Linked DNA regions of Homo sapiens. Each later gene encodes a partner of the first gene's protein in a complex. Links are inferred from orthologs where the notes say so. Each region holds a gene or a part of one and is shown on either strand. Other genes may lie near its edges. The genes, in order: PAG1 and CSK.

What was found.
Region 2: the proteins of PAG1 (region 1) and CSK are in contact, whole or in part, in an NMR structure (PDB 2RSY), measured with the Rattus norvegicus proteins. The link is inferred for Homo sapiens from one-to-one orthologs. Residues at the interface, in NP_071589.1 of Rattus norvegicus: Phe291, Ser292, Leu294, Tyr296, Lys297, Ser298, Arg299, Glu300, Glu301, Leu305, Ile310, Met313, Tyr314, Ser315, Ser316, Val317, Asn318, Lys319; in NP_001025210.1 of Rattus norvegicus: Thr88, Arg89, Glu93, Arg107, Ser109, Thr110, Asn111, Tyr112, Thr117, Cys122, Glu123, Lys125, Val126, Glu127, His128, Tyr129, Arg130, Ile140, Asp141, Tyr156, Asp161, Gly162.

Annotation. Positions count from the first base shown.
Region 1 is NC_000008.11:81,108,964-81,116,903, forward strand, and holds the start of PAG1 (phosphoprotein associated with glycosphingolipid-enriched microdomains 1), read right to left. Parts: upstream 3,106-7,940; 5' UTR 2,628-3,105; exon of another isoform or gene 1-2,627. UniProt on the Homo sapiens protein: Negatively regulates TCR (T-cell antigen receptor)-mediated signaling in T-cells and FCER1 (high affinity immunoglobulin epsilon receptor)-mediated signaling in mast cells.
Region 2 is NC_000015.10:74,777,296-74,785,167, forward strand, and holds the start of CSK (tyrosine-protein kinase CSK), read left to right. Parts: upstream 1-4,784; 5' UTR 4,785-5,425; intron 5,426-7,139; exon of another isoform or gene 7,140-7,228; intron 7,229-7,872. UniProt on the Homo sapiens protein: Non-receptor tyrosine-protein kinase that plays an important role in the regulation of cell growth, differentiation, migration and immune response.

The DNA.
Region 1 (7,940 bases):
ATTACTGCTGCCGTGGTGGTTTCCTTGACTGTGTAGATTGCTGCAGCTACACGTGCAGGCAGGAAACCAAATGGAGACCACCACCCTCCAGTGTAAACTCTAACATCACACCAATTTTTCTTTTTTGACTCTCTGAATGCATGAATAGAAAAATAATAAAGCAACAGAATCCACTTCAAATTGAAAGACCTGGCACCTCTACCACACATTAGGAGGTATGGAAGCATGGGCAAGTTATTTAACAATAATTATGATCATTTCTGTTGTGGGTGCTGTTAAGCACTTTGCATACTTTAATCCTTAAGCTTAGATTTCTTCATGTATAAATTGAGGATAATAATGCAACTACTTCATTTGCAAGTTGAGGCAGCAGGGTCAAAAAGAACACAGTTTCAACACAGACAGACGTGGGTTAAATGCCAGCTCCAATTTCTACTATTTGATCTCACTGAGCTCCCATTTTCTCATCTCTAAAGTAGAGATGAAGCCACTTACCTCAAAGGACTGTGGTGGGGAATTGAGCAAGACAGTGTTAAATACCAGTTGGTGTCTGTATCGCTAGACAGTGCACAATAAATGTTTATACCTTCTCTCCTATTATACACATGAACTGCTTCTGTTAATATTCATCAGCAGCAATTCAATGTCCATAGCAGCAATTCAATGTCCATAGAGTCCAAAGATGCATTTCCTTTCATAACAATGAAAATTTTTCCCAGAACAAGCTTAATATGCCAGATACTGGCCCAACAGCTCTATGTCTATGAACTCATTTAATTCTCACTACTGTTCAGTGGGGTAGGTACTACTACTGTCATCCCCATTGTACAGATGAAGACACTGAGGCACAGACTTTGGGTTACTTGCCTAGATTCAAACAGATGGTACCAGAGCTGGCAGCCTGGCTCCATAGCCTGTCCTCCTAACCAGGCTGCAATAGGGCTTAATGGGTCAATCTGTTTGAGATTCCATGCTTGGATGTAATCTCTTCTAGAGATAAGCACTGGATGCTCTCACAAACCGCAATGTGTTGATGTGACTAACTTTTCAACTTCTGAAATAACATTTTGTGTATTTTCTTAGTATTCCTAAAAAAAAACCCTTTACACTTTAAATAAGGTGCCTATAACTAGTTCATCTTGTTCTGCATGCTGAAATACCATAAATAAATGCACTTCTCTCTTCAAAGATTATGTAAATAAATCTTACATTAAAACATACCCCTGAGCTTTGGTTTAAACAATAATTTCAAGTCCAAATTAAACATTTATGTATGTGTATATATATTTAGCAGGAAAGTCTTAATATGACCTATTTTGTTAAACTAATGACATCTATACCCAATACTCCAAATATTCCTCTTATTTATAATATTCGCTGTGTAACAGTCACACAGCAGTACTGCATGGTACTTCAAAGTACTATTCCTTTTACAAGTTTAACCAACTCAGGTATTAAACATCAATGATGATAATCCATAGCTCTGCTTAAAAGGAATCTCTCGGGAACAGCTGAGAAAGAAAGGTTAAAGATTTCTATCCTTCAAAGTAGGGCACTGCAGCTACCTATAAATCATGCTCTTTGTTTATTAAGATAATTAGGCCCATCAGTACACTTAACTTTTAGACTCAACAATTGTCTGGCATGAACAATTTCCACTTTTTCTAAAACAAAGGGGATGTGTTCAAAAAGCGGTCCTCTGCATGCTCTCTGCACAATGCATGCTATTTTAAAACATGATTTATGGGTCTAATTCCTGGAGCTGCCTTGAAAAATATAGTGGGTTGTTCCTCCCATGCTCCCTATTAGGAGAAGACACTCCAATTTGAAGAGTGCACTCTGTTTCAGACTTCAGGCCGCTATATCATGTCAGCATTTTCAGTAAATACTGTTCAATTGGACTTTAAACAAATGGAATGGAGGGCCACAGCTGCAGCCACTGCAGAGATAAAGTTATCCAGCCGGGAGGCTTACATAAGAGGTGCAGGACAATCAGGGTGAAATCCAAGTGTCATTATCTGAATCCTATTTCTTGAGACTTGCCTACATTCTTAAAGTGTATGAATTCACACGCCCAGAGCTCGTTTTATTTGCCTTAGGGCATAAAACACCGGGTCGACATATAAGTTGTTTTTTCCCTAAAGGACTAGGCTCCAATTATGAAAAGGTTGGCAACTTCTGCCTAGGGGAAGAGTAAAGCGGGATGCGCGGGAAGCCTGCAGGCCTGAAAGAAATGGCTCGCCCAAAGATCCATCGCAGTGCTGGCCACACTCCCCAGAGGAATTAGGATGGAGGTGACAAGACCCTGCCCAGCCCCTTCACCCCAACGTAAACACAGAGTCAAGGAGCTTGGAATGAATAATTAGCACGCAGCAGTCGAAATGCCCTAGGAGTACCTGTCCTCTCCCAGCATATTTCCAACTGGCACATTCGTGAGATGCTGAGGTCAGCCAGCCCTGGACTCCAGACCTTCCAGCTGCCTTGTCCCCTTCTTGGCACCCCGCACTCCCTCCTCGAGCTGGAACTCTGTTAACAAGAGGTGCCACCCTCGGCTTCCCACAAGAAGATAAAAACGAACCTCTCCTTCCCACGGCTCCCTCCAACTTCAGAAACTACAGTCAACTTACTGGGACTCAGGAGGCAGGGAGTCTTCCTGGCGGACGGCGCTCGGAGGCAGCCTCTGCAAACTCCGGCGCGCAGCGCCGCCGCCCCGGCACAGCCCGGCAGCAGCGGCAAGTGCAGGACCAGGCGCCGCCGCTCTGCACCAGTCGCCTTGGCTCAGCTGTGCCGGGCGCCGGGCATTCGCCAGGGCACACGACTCAGCGAGGCGGCGGCTGGGACTGAGGCTACTGCACCCGGCCGCGCGGACCCGAGCGCTGCAGCTGCCTCCAGCCCCGGAGCGCGGCGCTCCGAGCCCCTGGTGGGTGTCTCTGGCTCCAAGGGAATCACGGCTCAATTAGGGACCTGCCAGGAGAAAAACCGATGCGCTGCCGCAGGCAGAGCCGCCAGCCCGCCCCCAGTCGGCTGGTCACATCGCGGGCGCGCAGACGGACAAGCGAGCGGGAGGGTACCGCAGCCAGCACTCGCCGCCGCGCCGCGGAGAATGACAGGCGCCGAGGCGGAGCAGCCGCGCGGGGAGCGGGGCGCGAGTGCGCATGATCCTGGCCGCAGCGGCACGTCACGGGGGAGGAGGGGCGGGCCGCGGGGCGGGAGGGGGCGAGCCGGGCGGGGCCGGGCTGGGGGTGCACACGGGTGAGGACCGGCGCGGGGCCTGGCTTGCTCGCGGGAGGATGCAGGAAGTCTTCCCTGCCCTGATTTTATGAACCCAAAGCTCTGTGGTTGAACTTGTCCCAGGAGCCCATTGTCCTTTAAACAGCACCGTTTAAGCGGTCCTTAAGGTCCCTGGGGAGCCCACAAAAGCCAATTTAATTCAGGTTACAGCTTAACCGTAAAGGGTTGCCATTTGGGGGACAGTGATCTTCTATTGTGGCTGTGCATTAAAATAACTTGGGGAGCTTGTAAGAACCCTTTGCCCCGGACGCATCCCAGAACAAGTACAGGACAATGTCTGGGTGGGGCCCACCCAGGTATCAGTAGGTATCTAAAGATACCAAGGTACAGCAGTGCTTCTCAAACCCTCAGTGTGTGACAGAATCTCCTGCGGATTGTGATGAGATGCAAGATTCAGATTCAGTAGGCCTGGGATAATGAGGGAGACATCCTTTCTAACAAGCTCTCGGAGGATGCCAATACTGGAGGTCCAGACCCCCATCCTTGCTACTTAACGTGTGATCTAGAGCCTGGAGCAGAGCTTCTGAAACAGTTGGCCTGTCTGACAGTCACCCGAGGGGCTTATAAAAAACGCAGAACAAATGCCCAGGCCGTACCCCCAGTGATAGTGGTTCTGGCTCAGCCCCTGGCAAAGGTGGGCTTCTAGAATTCCATTTGGCATCAACACTCTAAATAAATCTGATAGGGGTTTTGTTTGGGCCAAACTTCAAGTTTACACTAGCAACCTGGAATTGGGAATAAACTTTTGCACTTACAAGGAGACAAACCAAGTCTAGAACTCAGGACATCTGACTTTGAGTCAGGGATTCTAAACCAACGGGTGCTTTATCTGACTAGTCCCAATTTTCTAAAATTATGATGCATTACTTAGCAAGAAAAAACATATAAATGGCATTAAATATACACACACACACTCTATTGAACACTCGTTACACATATCATTAATGGGAGCTTAAAGGTGGCTGGGGAAGAAGGCTCATCAGGAGAGGGTAAGGAAGACAGTGATGGAGTAAGGGATGTTGTTAGTGTGTCGCAGAGGGAAGGGTATGTGGGAGGAAACAGTTTAGACTCAGCCTACAGCTTGGAAAAGCCCATTGGGGAAGCGGACCCAGGAACCAGACTTGGCCTCTTGCTTCAGAGCATGGTATGAAACTCAGGTGTTTAAGAACTTATGGAGTATAACATTTCACATACGTTACCTCACTGAAATTTCACAGTGGTCTCTTAAGTTGAATAATAATATAAAAAAGTATCCCCATTTTATATATTAAAGAAGACATCCTGGACATGAGTTGACTAATGGTGGAACTTGAATAAAAGTAGGGATCTCCGTGTTGGACTTGGCTTCTACAACTCTGGAGAAGAGGACAATTTAGACCTTATAAAGCAAATGGTTTCTGTGTTTACTAGTCACATCTTTTACAGGCTGTGCCTAAATTTGGAGTTAGGAAGGCTTTCATTCTTGTGGGGAGGAAATACATTTTGTGTCTTCCAGTTTTGCTACACTTGTTAGGATACACTTAGAACAAAATGTTCTAAGAGCAACCCGGTCCTAGGACATTGCAGTTCCACAGTGCAGGCTTCATTGAGGAGTTTGAAGGGCAATATTCACGTTATCTGGTGACAAGTGTAATTACCATCCTCATTTTACCCAGGCTCAGAAGCTAAGTGATTTAGACAAATTCACGAATGCAGGCAGGAGCCAATCTCTAGCCTCTGTCCTTTTCCTCTGCTCTCTTTTCACCAAGTAACATGCTGAGGATTGTTTTTCATTTCCAAATTTTTCATATCAGGATTTGCCATCAGTAAATTGGAACTCAAATGTATTTCAAAGCCACTCCTAGATAGAGAACCAAAAGTGTCAGGATCAATTCTTGTGCTTGTGGTAGATGCTATGGGCTATACTCTCGGTCTGAGTAATGTTTTGGAAGCAAGTATGTGATAGTTATATACAGTCTTCTAATCCAGAGGTTTGACTGGGAATGCTACACTGCCAACTGTGGTCTACCTGCCTTTATCTTTACTTCTTATCTAACTCTTCCATTACAGCCATTCTTCGGTGTGATTATGAAATTAATTCCTAAGAAAAAAGAATTCTTTGAAGGAGCTGGTACATCACAGGTTGTAAAACTTACTTCAGTTTTTAATAAGAAATATATATATATTTTAAATATGAAGGTAGCAGAATAGTCATGTTGGGACCTTTAGAAGAACCCAAAGTTGTCATTGTTTTCTTAGGTGCCCGACATTTCAATCAAAATATTTACATAATTCATTTGTATATTGATTTCAAGAGATCCAAGATTTAATTAAATAAAAAGTTACTATTAATTGGTGTGTCCTACTGCTATTGAATTTTGAACCATTGTTATTGGCATTAAATACATGAAATATATAATATTGTCTTGATACTATATTGACTGTGCTTTAATATTGACTGTGTCTTGATATTGACTGTGTCTGTATTTAGAATTTATTTCACATCAGCTGCTATTGATTGTCTGGCAGAAATCGCAGCTACATCTTTTTCTCTGAGGTCTGTATTCCTTATGGGTCAGCAAGGCCTACTCTTTGGCTGAGAATTCCTTCCTTCAATGCCTCTAAAAGTCCTAGTAGTGAGATATTCAATTATATAGACACTAATGACTCCACTGAAACTATTCTTCCCTCATGCAGAAACTGTACCTAGGATAGATTTTTATTAAAGTCTTTCTGCTAAAAATCACAGGCTTACCAACTGAGCTGGAAAGCTTAGGCTCAAAAATTCTCCACCTTTATTAATTACATTTCTTCATCCATTTCACTCAAAGGGATTCTTTGACATGAAAATCTTCACTTACTTCATAGACACAGTCCAGATAAGAGAACTGTGGGGAGTCCAAGGTGACTAGCAAGAGTGAGACAGTTGGGAGGAAGGAATTAGATGCCACTTGGTGAAAAATAAGCTTGCCATAAAAATTAATACAAGTTGTGCTTGATTTGTGGACATGGCTTATTACAAAGTTTGCCTTGTTTGAACACATGCAGCAGCTGATAACTTCACTGGAAACCATCACTGAATCCCTGGTGTAGATGGGATTGGGGGAGATTAGGGTCCTGTCTTCTTTCCCGAGAAACTTTAGAAAAGTATTAGAAAGCCCAATTCTTGCCCTAATGCAGGAAACTTACGACGTGCCTGCATTGTAAATGTTCATGTCTAAGTTATCTCACTTACAATTTAGAGCAGTCAATATAATAAATAATCAGGATTTTCAGGCTAGCTCCATAATGTTTTTTAAGTCTCTATTAACAACAAAAAAAGCTAATAGAGTGTTAATTATAACCCTGAACCTGAGAAGAAATAGGTGATGGGTAGGGATGTTGGGCTAAGGCAGGAATGGGGTCGGGGGCTGGGACAGGATGGAATTTAGGGATGGAAGAAGGAAGGCAGGAAGTGGCCTTTGGTTGCTGAGGAGCAAAGGCTGGTGGAGACTGAGTATCAGCAGCTTCTGAGATAAGACTGGGCAATGGCCTGTGAGCAAGATTAGAGAGCAAGCAATCAAGACTCTGCTGGCAACTCACAGCTTACCTGAACTTAAAGTGCTGAGGATTCCACGTGTGACTTTGTCTATAGGAAAGAGGGATCAGAGGTTAAGAAATAGATTATAAATTCCTTAAAACCCATGATAGATGCTTTAAAGAACTACTACAAAATATACCCTCAATTTCAATCTCTAAGAGTTACTTTTTCCTCCCTCCCAACCAAATTGCCCACTAATAAAAGGAGAGAGCAGCTGGGGGAGAGGCCATGCTGCACAGTGCGAACCTCACAGGCTGTCTGGCCCCCACTCCCAGCATCTCCATCCATCAGCTGTAATCACGTGACTGCCATCTTTGATTACCTAATACACAGTAACAAGAGCTTCAAGCACATATTAGGTTCCGAATATGCTAGCTATTAGTGGTGGGCTTTACAAAATCTCTCCTAGAGTTAAAATCTGAAACTAGACATCTCTTAGTGTCTATTTTATCATTTTAATGTAAACCATGATGAACTGTAGTTTTTAAGAGAGTACTTTCCTTCTCCATCAGAAGACTTAAGAGTGACTTTAGGGCTCCTCTGAGGACAGGAGAATCGTGTAGAAAAGGCTTTCAAGGGAGATCAGGGCAAAACCTACTAATGTAGCTCTGCAGCCTCACACTATACTGTAGAGGAAAAGTCAAGGCTTAAGGACTTGACATTTTCATATCTTTCTACCGGGAGAAAGAAATTATGGTGGCAAGAGACAGTAGCTATAAAAGTGAAAATAGAGTGCTTTAAAGAAATGCCTTTATATTACAGATTTGAGAATGGACATTTCCATTGTCCTTTGTCATCCTGACCTTACACATTCCTTAAAGTTCTATCCTGACATCAACACTCAAGATGTGTGCCTGTAAAACTGATGTAGATACTCAGAATGTTGGTAGAGATTCCTTAAGCTCACTTTTAATTCTTCTGCCTTTATCACTTCAATATAATACAATTTTTATAAACATATTTTAAGCAGGCATCAGAGAAAACTGCGTGTTTCCTTAGTAGCCAACCAGTTGCCTGCCAGCAAGCAAAACTTCAGCATTGAGAAAGGAAGATTTTGAAATTCAATTCCAAAAGAAGTGAGTTGTGCCAT
Region 2 (7,872 bases), on another chromosome or scaffold:
GAGGAGGCGCATTCCTTAAGGGCCTGGTGGGGATGGTGATGACAGGGCCAAAGGACAGCTCCCAAAGCTGGAAAGCCAGCCACTGCGGGGGGCCTGGAGGTGCTGTCAGCAAGGGAAGCTGCCCGGCCCCTCTTGCTAGCAGCCAACTCAGCCTGAGCACCTGCTCTGCAGGAAATAGAAGGGGACTTTGCTGGAAATCTGCCTTTAATCTTGGCTTCCTGTTTTCTGCCCTGGGGGACTGCCCAGACGGTCTGAGTTTCAAGCTATTTCACACCAGCTTCTCTAAACTGTCATCTCTGTGCAAAGAGGCTGGGGGAGGGGAGGAGGCTGGGTGGAGAGAGGAGCGGCCCTTCCCTTCCCAGGGGACCCCATAAGGGTATAAATGCACATACATGTGCATAAGCTCTGGACTGCTGGAGGCCAACCCAACTTTGCATGGAGCTATCCCATTTGGCACTTGTATCATCAAAATGCAGCCAGAAGCTTCTCTCTGGTTCCCCACATCCAGGGGTGGGTCTCCAACCTCTCCTCTCTTCTCCATTCCCCTGGGGCAGGCCCAACAGCCAGGCAAGAGTGGCCCAGCCTCAGAGAGCTAGTGTTCAGTTCCCAACACTGCCTTGACTCCACATTTCACAGGCATCCCAAGCTCATTTTGTCCAAAACCAAACTCCTGAGTGTTCCCCCAGCCTGGCACTCTCCCCAGGTTCTCCCATCTCGCACCATCTCCCCAGGTGCTCCAGCCACACCTGAGGACTGAGGAGTCATGCCTGATTTCTCCTGTGGCCTCACTCCCCACAAACAACCCCTCACGGAGAGCTGCCCTGGGACTTGCCTTTGTCCATTCACTTCCCTATCCCGCTGCTTCCACCAGGGCTAGACCCGTCAGCCCTGGTCCAGGCCATGCAACAGCCTCCTCACTAGGGCTTTGACCTTTGACCTTAACTTTTTTTTTTTTTTTTTCTGGAGTCAGGGTCTCACTCTGTTGCACAGGCTGAAGTTCAGTGGCTCACTGCAGCCTCCATCTTCCCACCCTAAGTGATCCTCCCACCTCAGCCTGGCTGAGATGGGAAGATTGCTAGCTACCAGCACACACCACCATGCCTAGCTAATTAGAAATTTTTTTTTTGTAGAGACAGGGTCTTGCTCTGTTGCCCAGGCTGGTCTCAAACTCCTGGCCTCAAGTGATCCTCTTGCCTCAGCTTCCCAAAGTGCTGGGATCACAGGCGAGAGCCACAGGGCCCAGCCGACCTTCACTCTTTATCATATCACTACCCTGCTTATAAACATCTTTCAATGGCTCCCCATTGCTCATATGATAAAACCTAAACTCCTGTAATAAAAATCTCTGGCCCACAACACCCTATAGAATCTGTCCCTTCCTCAAACACCACTCTCCCCTGCTTGCCGGTCTCATCACCTTGGCCTTCTGGCTGTCCCTTGAGCCACTGAGGCTTTCTGTGCCTCAGGGTCTTTCACTATCTTCCTCCCCACCTGCAATACCCTCCCCCACTCCTCCAACACTGGCCTGGGGCGTGGTGGCTATCGCCCGTAATCCCAGCACTTTGGGAGGCCAAGGTGGGTGGATTATTTGAGGTCAGGAGTTTGAGCCCAGCCTGGCCAACATGGTGAAAACCATCGCTACTAAAAACACAAAAATTAGCTGAACATGGTGGCACACACCTATAGTACCAGCTACGTGGGAGGCTGAGACAGAAGAATGGTTGAATGCCAGAGCGGGAGGTTGTGGTGAGCCGAGATCATGCCACTGCACTCCAGCCTGGGCAACAGAACAAGACTCCGTCTCAAAACAAACAAACAAAAAACAAAACAAAACAAAACAAAAACTTACTAAGACAGTTGTAGATAAAGGCAGATTTATTAGAAAAAGTAGGAAAATACATTGCAAGAAGGCAGAAGAGAAGCTGACTGCCAGGAAACAAAAGGTTGTTGGAGATTTTATAGAATTAGTGTTATGCTATCTGTTGAGGAGGTTTTTGTGCAGTATCAAACGCCAAGGGTACAGTGAGCTAACTTGCCAAGGGTACAGTGAGCTAACTTGCAGGAGTCTGGTGATAGTCGGGCACAGGAAGATTGTGAATTATTTGCACAGGAGAGCTATATGTCCTAGACATGAAGAAAGGCAGACTCACAGCTTATCTAATTTCTCTTTTTGCTTTCCCTTGCTCCCACCGACCAGATTCCCTTTCCCTAATTAGCACTTCCCACCTAGCACTTAGTAGGTGCTCAATAAGCATTTGTTTTTTTGTTTTGTTTTGTTTTGTTTTGTTTTTTTGAGACAGAGTCTCGCTCTATTGCCCAAGCTGGAGTGCCGTGGCGTGATCTCGGCTCACTGCAAGCTCCGCCTCCTGGGTTCACACCATTCTTCTGCTTCAGCCTCCCCAGTAGCTGGGACTACAGGCACCCGCCACCACGCCCAGCTAATTTTTTGTATTTTTAGTAGAGACAGGGTTTCACCATGTTAGCCAGGATGGTCTCGATCTCCTGACCTTGTGATCTGCCTGCTTCGGCCTCCCAAAGTGCTGGGATTATAGGTGTGAGCCACGGCGCCCAGCCCAATAATTCCACCAGAGGACAGGTCTGTGGGAGTGGGGCCCTTTATCGATTTGTTTATGGTTTTATCCCCAGTGCCTGGAGTACAGGAAGATTAAAAAATTTATTTCACTTTGCTGAGAAGAGGTGGAGCCAGGATTCAAATGCTGGTCTATTTGACTCCAAAGTTCACAGCTGGGCCACAGCACACCCAGGGGAAAAAGTCAAGTGCATTTGGGGATAAAGAAAGGTTGGTGACAAAACTGGAACAGGGATTAGAGTATTTTCCCCAAATCCCCAGTCTTTTCTTTCCCATTCTGCTAGCTGATTCAGCCAGGGGAGGGGAGATGTCAATTTCTCCCTCCCAGAAGGCTTTGCAGAGCTGCTGAAGTGCTTTCTTGTAGGCTGAGAGGCGGCCCCCCATCCGGCCCCATATTATCATTCCATCTTGACCTCAGAGGAAAGAAAGGGAAACCAGCTCTGCTGAGCACCCTTTCCACTCCCTCACCCCCAGGCCGTTATCTTGCTGAATCTGCACTATCTATCATGAGAGAAGTATATTTTGAGCCTGATCTTACAAAAGAGGAAACAGCTCAGAGACCTTAGGTAACTAGCCCTAAGTCACACAGCTAGTAAGTGGACGGGTTGAAATTTAACTTGGAGACTTGAACCCCAAATTCATCTTTTTTCTGTTACACCACACCTATCTCTGAAACTTACTGGCTGTCTCCTCAAAGGACATCCCTCTCCAAAGGGCTGGCTCCAGCTGGGAAACCGGCCTAAGGGTGCCCTGGGTCAGAGGGCCGACCTGTGGTTTTGGGGGCAACTCCTCCTGGCATCCGAGGCTCTTTAAAACAATCTGCAGCCACACTGTCTCCCAGCTCCGTCTCCCACAGGGCTGTTTGCCCTCTTCTCGCTCCCTCGGGCCTCTTCATGCTTATTTTGTGTTCCAAGACTTTGTCAGCATGCCCCACTTCCTCCCCCCCAACCCCAAGAGTGCCTCTTCCCTCTGTCCACCCAAGCCTGACCCTTGCTTCAGGGTCTAGTCCCTAGAAAGTCCCCCACCTTTACCTCCTCCCTACGCTGGAGTCTCTGGTCTCGCCCTCATCACTGTATCCCCATTCTGTTCCCCGGTCTCACCCTCATCACTGCATCCCCATTCTGTTCCCCCGCCACCCTGCACTCTCCCACCCCTGTCATGCCTGAGCACGCTGTCCTCTCCTGTGGCTCAGAGCAGGTCATCTCCCTGCTTTTCGTTAACAGTGATGTAACAGCCCTTGCTTAACGGAGGGCTCCTCACGTGCCAGCTACTGCATACTAAGCACTTTAAACGTATTAACTCATTTCCTCCCCTCCCCACAAAAACTTAAGAAGTCGGTGCCATTATATATCACCTATTTTACCAAATGGGGAAACTAAAGCACAGAGAGGTTAAGTAACTTGCCCAAGGTCACAGAGCTGCTGACAACTTCTTTATTGCCTCCAGGCTGAACATAAACTCCAAGAAAGTCCCATGAGGCTCTTTGGATCTCTTTTGCCCCTGTTGTTTGCAGGAACCCATCTCCCACCACTCTCCCCCACCCACACTGCAAGCGGCAGCCGCCTGAGCTATATTTAGATCCCAGAAGCCACCAAGCTCCCTCCGCACTCCCCGCCCTTGTGCATGCTGTTCCCTCTGCCTGGTCCCGGCTCTGTGAGGTGTGAGGTCTCCCCGTTAGCCCTAGTTTTCTTTCTGCCTCCTGGGAACCGTGTCCACCACCTCTCCACTTTGATCAATTATTTCCTTGCCGTTGTCTGTCGGCCTGTCAGCCTACCCCCACCCGACCGAGAACGCCTTGACGGTAGTGAAATGGTCTTGCCAATAGACTCCAGAGCAGGCTCCGCCACGATGTCAGCGCCAGGAAATGTTGGTGAATGAATGAATGAAGGCTTTCTGCTGCGAATCAGGCCCACTCTCCACAAACAGACCTGAGGAGAGGGGCCCAGGCCCGGCCCCCAGCGCTTCTGCAGCGGGAAAGCTGCGTCCAGAGAAGGCTGGGAGGTTGCTCCCAGGCCGGCTGAGGAGAGACCCTCGGAGCCTTCAACGCAGCCAGGCGGCAAGTGGGGGCAGGGCGTGGGCGCGGACACACCCCCCGCAGTGCCCCCGGCGCCCGGCAGGGGGCGCCGCCCCGCCGGCCCACGCCCCGCCGCGCGCCGGGCAGGCCCCCTCGCGCAGGCGCGCTGCCGCGGGCGGAGGATCCGGGCCGCGCTTCCTCTCGCCAGGCCTGCGAGCTTCCTCCCAGCGGAGCCCTGGGCGAGCCGAGGTTGGCCGCCGCCGCCGCCGAGCCCGCTGCCGCCCTCCCGCTCCTGCCCCACCCGCGCCTTGCCCGGGGGCTTCTGCCGGGGTGGGGTCCGAGCCGGGCGACCGCCCGGCTGCGCCGCCGTCGGGGCCGTAACCCGGCCCGCCGTCCCTCCCGCCCCAGCCAGCCTCTGGCCGCCGGAGCCCGCGGGGCGTGGAGCGCGAGGAGCCCCGCGGCCCCGATCGAGCGTCCGGGGCGGCCCCCGGCAGCCAGCGCGACGTTCCAAAATCGAACCTCAGTGGCGGCGCTCGGAAGCGGAACTCTGCCGGGGCCGCGCCGGCTACATTGTTTCCTCCCCCCGACTCCCTCCCGCCCCCTTCCCCCGCCTTTCTTCCCTCCGCGACCCGGGCCGTGCGTCCGTCCCCCTGCCTCTGCCTGGCGGTCCCTCCTCCCCTCTCCTTGCACCCATACCTCTTTGTACCGCACCCCCTGGGGACCCCTGCGCCCCTCCCCTCCCCCCTGACCGCATGGACCGTCCCGCAGGCCGCTGATGCCGCCCGCGGCGAGGTGGCCCGGACCGCAGTGCCCCAAGAGAGGTGAGTGCCTGGCCGTCCCGGAGTGTCCCCTGGAGGGAAGAGGGTGGAGGTCGCGCGTCTAGTCTCTGTTGCTGCCACTGTCGCGTCCACTCCCATTCCCCTCTTCTCCCACTTCTCCCTTCTCTCCTTTACTCCCTTGCACGGGTTCGAATTCTCCCAGGAGCCACTGTCAGAACCCAAATTGGAAGGGAGTGCATGAGGGAGGTACTGCCCTGCAGCTCCACGGACTCGTCTTCTCGGGTCATCCCGAGTCCCCCCCTCTGTGGAGCTCAGAGTAGGAGGTGGCTGGAGTCTGGAGGAAGAGGATCCGTATGGGCCAGGTCCCTAGAGAGAGTGCTGGACTCCCCTGCCCTTCCCTGTACAGGGCCTCCCCGCAGGTGCCCTGGCTTGCTTGGTTCTGACCCCTCCCTCATTACCCCACCATGACCCTGCGGGCTGCAAGCAAGCCCAGGGCCCAGCCACCTCGGGTGAGCAGTTAGAAGCCCAGGTCCTAGGACTGAGCCTGTCACCCTTGGCCTCTCAGAAGACCAGGCCTAAGCCAAGGGATCTTTGGGTGGGAAACTGGGCAGGCCTTCTGCCCGGGGGGAGGTAACGGAGCATTAGCACCATGCCCCCACCTTCTGGCACCCTGGGCAGCCCATTCTCCTAGGCTCTTTGTGGCCCAGACCAGGTGTCAGGAAGGGGTGTGTCCAGCCAGCAGATTTTTTGGAGCTTAACTACCAGTTCACTTCCCCGCCCATTTTGTACACCCGGGAACCGAGGCTCAAAGGGAGAAGTTGCTACCCCAGGCCTCTAGTGGAGTTAGGCTGGCTGTCCTTTCATCCCCAGCTATACAGGGCTGGATGGCTGTGGGTGGAAGGAAACCAGGCAGGCACCTTCACCCACTGGGGACACAGGCCCCCAGCCCGGCCCCAGAGGGACCTTGTTGGTTGAGCACGTGCTTCCCTGCAGAGGGCTGGAGGGAGTGAAAGGGCTTCCGGCTCCAGCTGTGGCTGGGTCAGCTAGCAGGAGATGTGGGGAATGTGTGGTGTATGGCCATCTGTGTGGTGTGGCAGGAAGGTCCGGTCCTGGCCCCGGCTCTGAGTTGAAACAACCTGGTGGTCAGTCCTGACCCAGCACTCGCCACACCTATGGCCCAGCTGGCACAGGAGCAGCCAAGTTCAGGATATAAATGGGGTCACATGGGAACCGTGGAAGCTCTGTCTCCACTGGCAGCAGGCTACAGACTGGGGACATGGGAGCATTGTGAGAGTGGGGACACCCAGGGGGCCTGTTTCAAGCTCCTAGTACCCTGGCGGTTCCAGTGTCTTTCTTGGTTGTGGCCACAGCAGGAACAGGGCAAGGACAGCAGGGGTGAGGTTGAGGCCTGGCAGGATCCTCTGGCCCAGGAGAGCAGGCATTGCCCTGGTGGGTGCTGAGCAGTGTCTGGGCTCCCTTGGAGCTGCTGGCAGTTTTGTCCTGCTGGGTCCCTGCTCACGATTTAGGGTTTTTTTGTTTTTTCACTTTTTTTTCTGGCTGTCCTGACATGCACAGTGGAGGGGACCCAGATGTCCTGGGCCTGTGAGACTCCCCTCACATGGCCCCACACCCAGCCCTAACTTCCTTTCCAGCCTGAGGGACTGGGGCTGGAGCCTGACATGGTTAGCTCCCTCCCACCCCAGTCAGCCTTTTTAATTTTTATTTTATTTTATTTTATTTTTTTACCAACTGTGAGCTGTGAAGGTGTGATCCAGGGTCCCAGGGCCTTTGAAGAAAGGAGTCTGGCTTCTGGCTGGCACGTGTGCAGGGATGTGCTTTTCATTGGTGAGCTTGGTGCCCTCCACCCTCTCAGAAGCAGCTGCTCTTCTCTCTGCATTGGGTCAGGGGCAAGGAAAAAGCAGAAAATGTTCCCATTCACCACCGCAGGGGGGCCAGACCCCAAAAGGCTGAGCCACACAGAGTGGCCCTCGGCAAGGGTTGGAAATTTCGGGGACAGAATGCAGCTTCCTCCAAACAAGTATAGGTAGGGGTTGAGACCCAGGATCCACAGTGTGACATGGCTGCCCCCCAAAGGGGGCAGACCCACCTGGGTGCGGTTCTGGGCTCCATCTTTTGAAGGATTTTAAAACCTTGACAGGTCATCTTCAAAGAGCCAGGGATGTTGACTGAGTCTGGGAAAGAGAAAGTAGGGACAGATTCTCATATGTCTGAGGGACTGTCCCAAATGAGAAAGGCATCCCATGGCAGAAATTGTCCCAGACACGTGGGCCAGAGCTAGGGAGCAGGTGGGTCCCAGGGAAGTGAATCTGAGCTCATTATAGGGAAACCATGAATGTACTCATTTTCTTGATTTAGAAAATAACAAAACAGCGCTACAGGAAATTTAGAAAATGAAACAAAAATCACCCACTATTTCTTCAGCAGGCAGTGACTGTGTTAGCATTTTGGAGTTCACTGCCAGTCTTTTC